Linked DNA regions of Homo sapiens. The protein of the gene in region 2 purifies or fractionates together with the protein of the main gene of each other region. This does not show direct contact. Each region holds a gene or a part of one and is shown on either strand. Other genes may lie near its edges.

Region 1 (2,807 bases), on a different chromosome or scaffold from region 2:
CCACCCATCATAAGCCCTGAGTTAGGGGCTGCGTCTCTCGTGCTGCTGTCCCTTCCCACTGCAGGGCGTTGCTCTGTACCTGGCCGCTGTGAGAACAAAGCCTGCGCAGTGGCGATGGACTCTGGTAAGCTTCTTGGATTTACTTCCCAAGTGAAGTGCGGGGTGGAGCAAACCTCTAGCTCTGAGGCAGGTCAAGGGTCCAGGACACAGCCTGGGGCCTGCGCCAGCAGCTCTTCGCTGCTGACTGATTTCTCTGCTGCAGGACGGGCAAGGCCCACCCAGGGCGCCCCAGCAGGAGAGGGCTCACCATTGCTTCTCTTTTCATTCATTCATTCATTTTGTTTTTAAGAAAAAAAAACAACAACAACAAAAAAACAGGTCTAATAAGCCTTCCTTGGAGCCAAATGGGCAAAAATGTAAGGATTAAATCCCTCGCTTGGAATCGGCTACCAAAAGCTTTGTGTGACAAGAAACATTTCTGAGGCCTGTGTGAGGCCTCTCTGGGCAACAGACAGGAGCAGCAAAGTTGCAGCGTGAGGCTTTTGGAGGCACAAGGCCATTCGGGGGGTACCCGTCTCAGCCTAGCGCCTGAAGCCGGCATGCGCCTTTTGTGTGGATGTGGTCTGTGTTGTTTTGAGCCTTGGGACACTTCCTGTCCTGCAGGAACTTATGCAAGGACAGGACCCTGTATTTCTGGAATCTTCTGAGTGTTCTAAGATAGGGGCATCACTGTCATGACCTGAAGCGCCTCTGCGTGGTGAGGAGAGCCTCTGCTTAGTTAGCGGGCGTCAGGTACCATGTGGGAAAACACTGGACAACTGAGGTAAAACTTCTCCTGGGCAAAAGACCCCGGGGAAAGCCAATTTCCATGATGATGAAATTTTTGAGTAAACCATAAATCCTAACATAAAAGGAACTAGCAAAATCAATGCAGATCAGATTCCTCAATTAGACAATTGTTTTGCCAGCCCCTTTGTGAATCATGCTTGGGTTCATAAATGAGAAGAAACAACTTGGGGTGCAGAAGCAAGCTGCCCTCTGCCCCCTCCCTGAAAGCGCAGAATCTTTTCCTGCTGTCATCTGCCCAGAGCAGCCACACCAGTGCCCACGTGTCAGTGGGTTCATCTCTGGTTTTTGGTGACTTTTTCTTTTCTTCTTTGGAAGTCCAAGGTTTGTGAGGTTTCAGGACAAGATGATACAGCCTAGTTTGAGTCCCATCTGAGACACGGTAGTGGGATTCACCATGGGCTTCAGAAGTCCACTAATGGGAAGACCTGCTGAGGGCACTAGTACAGCAACGAAATTTCCTGGAGATTCTGGGTTTAGTGGCTCGGGGCAGAGGCAGGAGAGGGTGTTCTGTCTCCTCCTCACTCAGGGGCTCTTCGAGGTCAGCACTCAGACTGGAGGCCAGGGCCCCTGCAAAGGAAGCAGAGAACTGCTAAGTCATGGAGGCAACGGCGGCTCTACGGCCACACATTTCAGGGAGGATCTGTGGCACTCAGAAGGGAGGGAAACTCCCAGGAGAAGGGTCTGGTGACCTCCTCCCACGCTATGCCGGCAAAGATGTTTGTTGAATGAATAAACACATGAATGTCTTTCTTCTTATTCTTTGCCCTGGGCTTTTCTGCAGCATAAAAGAAGCTATGAATCTTGTGAAATTAATTCAGACTTACTGTCCAATTCATAAGTAAAGAATGAAGAGAAAAGGCATCTGGTCACAGTGAAAGGGAGGAAGAGCCACTGAAGAAGCAGTGGCTGGAGTCAATGGAAAAGCCCGTGAAACTTCAGAGGCCGCTCTGCAGATCCCTGGCGGTGTTCCTGGAATCTCCACGTGTTTACATATCGATATTCTACACAATGAGTTACAACTCGATTATTCCCCAAAGGGTCTAAGACTAGAGGTCAGTCCTAAATTGCTTGTCTGAATGAGTCCAGATGAGCATACAGCTGTTCATCACTGGAGGGAAAAGGAATAAAATTAAAACCTGCACATCTGCACCCCCCGCTTCCCCAGGGCTGCTGTCGGTGTGCTCAGAGGAATACAAGAATGCCTGCTGCAACACCAAGCCACTGTTGCGGGTGGAGCTGGGTCTCCCCTAGCACCGTTCTGCGAGCGAGAGGATCATTTCATCACCCTTCCCCTCGTAGTGTATTTTTAAACCCTGTTGTATTATGCCCCAAGTTTCCTGCATGACCTCTGCTGGGAACCAACCTCAGAAGCAGAGTTTCCACATCTTCCTCCCTGCGTGATTCACTTGCAGGGCTTTGGCCTTTGAAATTATTATTATTATTGGCATTTGAAATTAATTTAAGTCAGTTATTTTATTCACAGACGCATCTTTTTTCATTCTCTGACCTTCCCTTATTGTTTCTAGGAGGAGTTTCCAAAATCAATACTTGCAAACGTGCTTGGACCTATGGAGGCAGCCTGGCTCAGGGTGTCCTGAAATTCAGTACTTTCAGAGTCCAGGGGCTTCATGGTTGCCTCCCTTCTTCTAGGCTCAGTCAGGTCGGGCATACAGAGAAGGCTCACTATTCTCATCTTTAAAACAGGCTGCAGCCGGGCGCGGTGGGCGGATCGCTTCAGCCCAGGAGTTCCAGACCAGCCTGGGAAACACAGTGAAACCCCGTCTCTACAAAAACATTGCAAAACTTATCCAGGCATGGTGGTGCGCACCTGTAGTCCCAGCTACTTGGGAGGCTGAGGTGAGAGGATTTTGAGCCTGGGAGGTCAAGGCTGCAGTGATGGCTTCACTGCACTCCAGCTTAGGTGACAAAGTGAGACCCAGTCTCAAAAAAAAAACACC
Region 2 (3,500 bases):
GCTGGATTCCTCTGCTATAGGTTTGCCTAGCCCTTAGTGCCCCAGACAAGCCAAGTCCCTGCTCCTGCTGGATGCAGTGGGGAAGGCTGCTGGGCCACTGCCAGGTACAGGCAGTGGGGGCATAAGGGTCCATGGCAAACAGTCTGGCCCAACGGGGTGTCTACATCTCTTTTGAAAGAGGACACTAGACGGTCCCAGAAAGTATGCATCTCTGGGCACAACTTCCCAGCCTTCCCACATAAAACCCCTTGAGATGGCATTTCGGGGTGCTCTGCCTTTCGGCAGAGCAAGGAACCCCACTAGCCACTCTCCTGTCTTCTCTCCCAAGTCTCTTCCTTTGTCATTTCAAGCAATTTTCATGCCTTGTCAAGCATCCCAACAATAAAGCTCATGTCTGGATCTCTGTTGGGTTTAATTCCCAATCTGACTGAGCCCTAACTGCCTTTGTTTTGGAAATCAGCACTAGTTTTAAATGACAAAATTGTAGAAAATTACATCTAAATTCTGGTAAACTCTTGCTTTAAGATCTTTTTTAAAAAAATGACTAAATTGATTTTTTCTTTGCATTGTTTTGGTTAAGCTCTGTCTCCCTTTAAAAAAAAAAAAAGAAAGAAAGAAACTTACTCCCAGTTCAAGTTCATGAGTTACCAACTCTGACAACTGGGCAGCGGGCATCCTACTTCCAAGGCTATGCCAAAGCCCAAGGCACCGGGTGGCATATTCTGTCCCCACATAGCCCCTCTGGGCTAATGCAAGATCTTGCTGGCTTGCCACGTTCCAGGCACGCATCTAGGAAAAGGAGCTGTTTTGTGCAAAAAGGTAACTAGCTGAGAAAGGACTGGAGTCCCTAGTCTGGGGCTCAGCACCAAGCTGGGATCTGCCCCACCAAAGCTGCTGGGTGCAGGCAGCTAAACATTGTCAGCCCTGAGCCCATGAGATCAGAAAGACACAGGTGGCGGGGACAGGACCCTGCAGGACTTCTGTGCCCACTGGGTCAATGACCATTGCAGAGCTGTTCCTGTAACCTCTGTGCAAGGACCTGAGGGTGTGAACCATCCTCTGTGGTGGTCCTGAGCCAATGGAAGGGAGGGGACAAGAAATAGGGGCCCTGCTAAGATTCCCTCTACCAGGCCCCACTGGGCAGACCGAGGGCCAGGTGTGAGGGCCAGGGATGGGGTGGGCCTAGAAAGTGTCCTCAGCCCTGCCTTCTGGTGAGCCAGCGGGACCCACCAGCTCTAGCCAGTGACAACAACTGACCGGTCCATCACCCTGATTTCCAGAGGTTGCCAGCACACTGGCTCTTTCCTCGAAATTCCATGTAACTCGCTTCTCTATTTACGGCCTCATCAGCTGATGGAGCCCCTTATATTTGCAGGGAAGAAAGAGTGACGCACGCGCCTACAAATGCCTCCAAACTCAAGCCTGGGTGGGTTTTTTCTTTTTTTAATATATAAGTAATTTCTCTTTTCATTTCTAATCTTAAAAGCCTTTATTGCTGAAGCTATAATTTGTCTGTCAGATCTAATGTCAAACAACTGCATATTTTTTAAAATAAGAAACCCGAATTTTGAAACTAAATCTTTGAAACTTGCCATGTGAGAGTCGTGTTCCTGACAGGACCAGGTGGGCTTGGATCTGGGTCACTTTTAATTTTGCCCCTAGGGATTTTACATCTCTGAAGCCCAATTGATTTCACACTCCTAAATGACAGACAGCTGGCTCCAGGCAGGAACAGGAGGCTCTGCGTGATGGCGTCAACACAAGTCAGAACTCCACTTTAGAAAAAAAAAAGAACTTTCCTTTTCTCCTGTTCTCTGTTTGAAACCTTGCCCAGCATTATAATAAGATCCACCATGCAATGCCTTGAGATCTAGCTCGTTAAAGTCCCCGATATTCCCTGCTATTGTTTGACGTGACAACCTGGCCTCTCCCGGGGTTGAGTAATTATGGGGAGATTCCCCTCCATGAAGAACAGGTCTTGCCAGCCAGAGGGATGGGCCACTGGTATTTTTAGACTTCATTAGTGCCCAGATTTAAAATTTCACATTTTGTTTCTTGTAATTATCTTCTGATCGACTGAGCTCAAATTTCAGTTGGGGCCCTATTAGTCTGCCTTTCCAAAAAGGGCGTTGGGACTTTAATTTAAAACTTAACCAGTTGAAAAATAAAGGTGGCGTGGAAATGCTTTTTGATTTGCAGTAGGTCAAGCGATTGTCTCTCATCTGTGACTAGAGAAGCCAGCTTGTGTGCCATTCACTTTAATGAGTGTTATTTAAATGCATTGAGCACATATAGATTTTCTTAAGAAACTTACAAGACAAATCTTTCTTTCTCTAAGAACAATTTGGGGGTGGGAGCAAGCTGTAGGATTTTTTTTTTAGATGATGTATTGAAAGCTAATTAAAAATAGATTTCATGTGTGCAAAGTGATAAGGGAGGAAAAAAGAATTCGTTCCATTTGAATCCTGTTATGAAGTACCTAAGACATTTGTCTCGTTGTTGGATTGGAACCACCGAGCTAACACATGGGGAGAGGTGTGGCCAAGCTCAGGCCTCGGTGAGACCTGGAGTCAGTGTTACTACCCCAGGATCCCGTGAACCCAGCTGTGCGTGCCTGATGACAGAGCACAGGCTATGAATGCAGCTATTTCTACCCCTGCCTTCTTTGGCAAACAGTTTTTGGTGGCTCAGAGGATGTATGGGGACCTTTTAAAGCCCCAAGCTCCAGGCCTAGTGGTGAGCTGCAGAAAGGCTATTGTGTCTTCACCTGCGTGGCTGGGAGTGAAGAGTCAGGCTGCACCTGCTCCCACCTGCTTCTAGACCAGAAAGCAAAGCCCGTGTCAACCTGAGCAGGGAAAGGTATCTCTTCGGACTTCATATTTTGCAGGGGCCTAGGGTGAGGGGTCATGAGGATCCATCTACAGGCTTGTCCTCCCTTCTGGGAGGCCGTACTGGGAGAGAGGGATGGTTCAGCCCCTTCCTTTGGTTCTCCAGCTCCTCCCTTCCTATTCTGGCACTGGACTTCCACCTCATGGCACACCATTCATCCTCGCTGCTGCATTCATCCCTGTCTTCACAAGTAACAGTGATGAGATCTTGTGAAAATACTTTGAGGCACAGGGAATAGCTGTGTGACTGGGACAAGCCTCCTCACTTCTCTAAGCCTCTTTCCTCATCTTTAAAGTGGGGGTGACAGTACCACCCTCACAGGGCCTCAGGGAGGATTGAGTGAGATTGCGGACATGTCCGTACATAGCACTGTGCCTGCTTACCCCAAAAGCAGCTCTGGCTATTGCCTCTGGTCCAGGGTCTAGAGAGTTCAGCAGAGAAGGAGGCTAGGGAAGGGGCAGAAGGCCAGGCCCTCCCCAGCGCAGAGGAGATGGAAGAAGCCCATGCTTGTCCACAGGGCTGGCAATCCCTGGTCAAGCCATTTAACTTAGGGATGGGGACCCCTTCCCTAAAAGGGAGGTGGGATGCATCCCTTTTCTGTCAGGAGGACT
Region 3 (3,500 bases), on a different chromosome or scaffold from region 2:
CCAGGCTCCAGCCCCTGCCCACCCATCTACCTTTTCACAGCTGCAACCTGTTCTGCAGTGTAGCCTTTGGTGCTCTCTCCTCCAGCTTCACCGTTGGCCGAGGGGGCATCGGTCCCACCTGCTTTCCTGTGGGTGGCATGGGTTGTGTCTGTGGGTGGGGGTTGGTCACCGGCAGTCTGTGGTTTCTGGTTGAGGGACTCAATCAGGGCTGTGCAAGGCAAGGAAACCATTCAGAGCTCCTGCTCAAGCAGGCTGCGTGCCTCGCCGAGCGGCCCGCTGCTTCCCACTCACTTCCCCTCCCAGCAAAGCCACCAGCTCCTGCCCTGATTAGGCCTGTGGGTGCTGGGGGGACAGTCATCTGCTCTCTTGAAAGCCATAGTCCTTAAGAGTAGGCAGGACAGGCCGGACGTGGTGGTTCACACCTGTAATCCCAGCATTTTGGGAGGCTGAGGCAGGCAGATCACCTGAGGTCAGGAGTTTGAGACCAGCCTGGCCAATGTGGTGAAATCCCGTCTGTACTAAAAATTAAAAAATTAGCCAGATGTGGTGGCGGGCGCCTGTAATTCCAGCTACTAGGGAGGCAGAGGTTGCAGTGAGCCAAGATGGTGCCACTGCAGTCCAGCCTGGGTGACAGAGTGAGACCCTGTCTCAAAAAAAAAAAAAAAAAAAAAATCCGGGCACAGTGGCTCACGCCTGTAATCCCAGCACTTTGGGAGGCTGAGGCGGGCGGATCACCTGAGATCAGGAGTTTGTGACCAGCCCGGCCAACATGGTGAAACTCCATCTCTACTAAAAATACAAAAAAAAAAACCCCAAAAGACATTTAGCTGGAGATAGTGGTGGGCGCCTGTAATCCCAGCTACTCGAGAGACTTGAGAGGCTGAGGCATGAGAATTGCTTGAACCCAGGAGGTGGAGATTAGCAAGATTGTGCCACTGCACTCCAGCCTGGGCGACAGAGCAAGGATCTGTCTCAAAAAAAAAAAAAAAAAAAAAGTAGGCAGGATAGAGGTCTTTTTCGTTTTACATGAACAAAATTAATTTTGTTAATAAAAATTGACATAAAATTCTACATAATTCATGGATAAATCTGTAGTAATTGCTTTATTTTTCAGATAGTATACTTATACATATATCTCTTTTCTTAATAAATTTAGGCAGAATTCTGATATTCTGATAGTCTTCCAAAAGCACACTTGGTTTTATTAATAAACCCTATAGTACTTTATTTAGAGTTATTTTTTTTTATTTGTTTGTTTATTTGAGATAGAGTCTCACTCTGTTGCCCAGGCTGGAGTGCAGTGGTGCGATCTCAGCTCACTACAACCTCTACCTCCCAGGTTCAAGTGATTCTCATGCCTCAGCCTCCTGAGTAGCTGGTACTACAGGCACGTGCCACCACGCCTGGCTAATTTTTTTTTTTTTGACACGGAGTCTTGCTCTGTTGCCCAGGCTGGAGTGCAGTGGCATGATCTTAGCTCACTGCAACCTCCGCCTCCTGGGTTCAAGCAATTCTCCCGCCTCAGCCTCCCTAGTAGCTGGGATTACAGGCGCCCAGCACCATGCCCAGCTAATTTTTGTATTTTAGTAGAGATGGGATATCAACACGTTGGCCAGACTGGTCTTGAACTCCTGACCTCAAGCAATCCACCCATCTCGGCCTCCCGAAGTGCTGGGATTACAGGTGTGAGCCACCGTGCCCGGCCTAATTTTTGTATTTTTAGTAGAGATGGGGTTTCACCATGTTGGCCAGGCTGGTCTCGAACTCCTGACCTCAAGTGATCTGCCCACCTCGGGTTCCCAAAGTGCTGGGATTACAGGCATGAGCCACCGTGCCTTGCTAGAGTTCATTTAATACTACTTTAATTGCTATTTCTTTCAGTGTATTTGGTTTTACTCTGCTTTTTGCTTTTATGAATCCAACTTATGAATCCATTTTTTTCTACTGAACTCATTCAAATCTGCAAATATGTTTGCATTGCACCACATTTTGAATAAGTAAAATATTCAGTCCACTGCACTACTCCCTATTTTTACCATTGGTTTTTTTTTTTTTTCTTTTTTGAGACGGAGTCTCACTCTGTTGCCCAGGCTGGAGTGCAATGGCATGATCTCAGCTCACTGCAACCTCTGCCTCCCGGTTTCAAGCGATTCTCCCGCCTCAGCCTCCTAAGTAGCTGGAATTACAGGTGCACACCACCACGCCGGCTAATTGTATTTTTAATAGAGATGAGGTTTCACCATGTTGGCCAGGCTGGTTTCGAACTCCTGACCTCAAGTGATCCGCCTGCCTTGGCCTCCCAAAGTGCTGGGATTACAGGCATGAGCCACTGTGCCCAGTCAACCCTTCAGATTTTTAAGATCTCAAAGTAGTGAGTTTAACAGACTTGGCATGTTGAGTGCCAAGCTGGGAAAAGTACCCTGCAAAGGGGACCCCGCTTAGCAGGACCCTCTGTTTCAGGTGGGATCAGTCAGGAAGCCTTCCTGGAGGCCTTTGCTTAGCTGTAAAGAGGAATGGGGGAAATGAGTTTGCCCAAGGGGGACACAGATGGTAGGAGACCAAAAGAAGTATCTGCTGTGCTCACAACTTGCTATTTTTCACATTTTTCTAATGCAAGTGGTTGGCCATGCCAAATGTCCTCTTCAATGTCTGGAGTCTATACAGGACATTAACTATCACCCTCGGCAGCATCATGGCTATTGAAAACCAAGCCCGGCTGGGCGCTGTGGCTCACGCCTGTAATCCCAACACTTTGGGAGGCCGAGGCGGGCGAATCACAAGGTCAGGAGTTCAAGACCAGCCTGGCCAACATGGTGAAACCCCGTCTCTACTAAAATACAAAAATTAGCCGAACATGGTGGTGGGCGCTTGTAATCCCAGCTACTAGGGAGGCTGAGGCAGCAGGATGGCTTGAATCTGGGAGGCGGAGGTTGCAATGAGCCGAAATCATGCCATTGCACTCCAGCCTGGGCAATAGAATGAGACTCTGTCTCAGAAAAACAAAAACAAAAACAACCAAGCCCACCAGGCATGGTGGCTCACACCTGTAATCCCAGCACTCTGGGAGGCTGAGGCGGGCAGATCGCCTGAGGTCAGGAGTTTGAGACCAGCCTGGCCAGCATGGTGAAACCCCGTCTCTACTAAAAATACAAAAATTAGCCGGCGTGGTGGCAGGCGCCTGTAATCCCAGCTACTCGGGAGGCTGAGGCACAGAATCGCTTGAACCCGGGAGGCAGAGGTTGCAGTGAACTGAGATTGTGCCACTGCACTCCAGCCTGGGCAACAGAGCAAGACTCCATCTCAAAAAAACAAAAGCAAGCAAAAACAAGCCTGTGGTTCCTGCAGATTAAATGAGGAAGGGCCCAAGTCTCTGGCAGCAGGTCCCTGTGTCCATTTATTCCAGGCACGAAACCTCAGTCAGGCCTGGGCCCCAGCGCCCTGGGTAGTAAAATCCTAAAGCCTCTGACAAGCTGACCAGCTGGGAAAACAGGCATCTGGAT

What was found. Proteins that work in one complex are often made in the same cells at the same time.
Region 1: the proteins of KLHL29 (region 2) and RALGAPA2 purify together in Homo sapiens (affinity purification with mass spectrometry, with the first as the bait; one large-scale study listed by BioGRID). This does not show direct contact.
Region 3: the proteins of KLHL29 (region 2) and DNAJB12 purify together in Homo sapiens (affinity purification with mass spectrometry, with the first as the bait; one large-scale study listed by BioGRID). This does not show direct contact.

What each region holds. Positions count from the first base shown.
Region 1 is NC_000020.11:20,391,838-20,394,644, forward strand, and holds part of RALGAPA2 (ral GTPase-activating protein subunit alpha-2), read right to left. Parts: exon of another isoform or gene 1,674-2,807; intron 1,417-1,673; coding exon of another isoform or gene 1,262-1,416; 3' UTR 1-1,261.
Region 2 is NC_000002.12:23,643,679-23,647,178, forward strand, and holds part of KLHL29 (kelch-like protein 29), read left to right. Parts: intron 1-1,375; exon of another isoform or gene 1,376-1,404; coding exon of another isoform or gene 1,405-1,426; intron 1,427-3,500.
Region 3 is NC_000010.11:72,344,920-72,348,419, forward strand, and holds part of DNAJB12 (dnaJ homolog subfamily B member 12), read right to left. Parts: intron 209-3,500; coding exon 31-208; intron 1-30. UniProt on the Homo sapiens protein: Acts as a co-chaperone with HSPA8/Hsc70; required to promote protein folding and trafficking, prevent aggregation of client proteins, and promote unfolded proteins to endoplasmic reticulum-associated degradation (ERAD) pathway.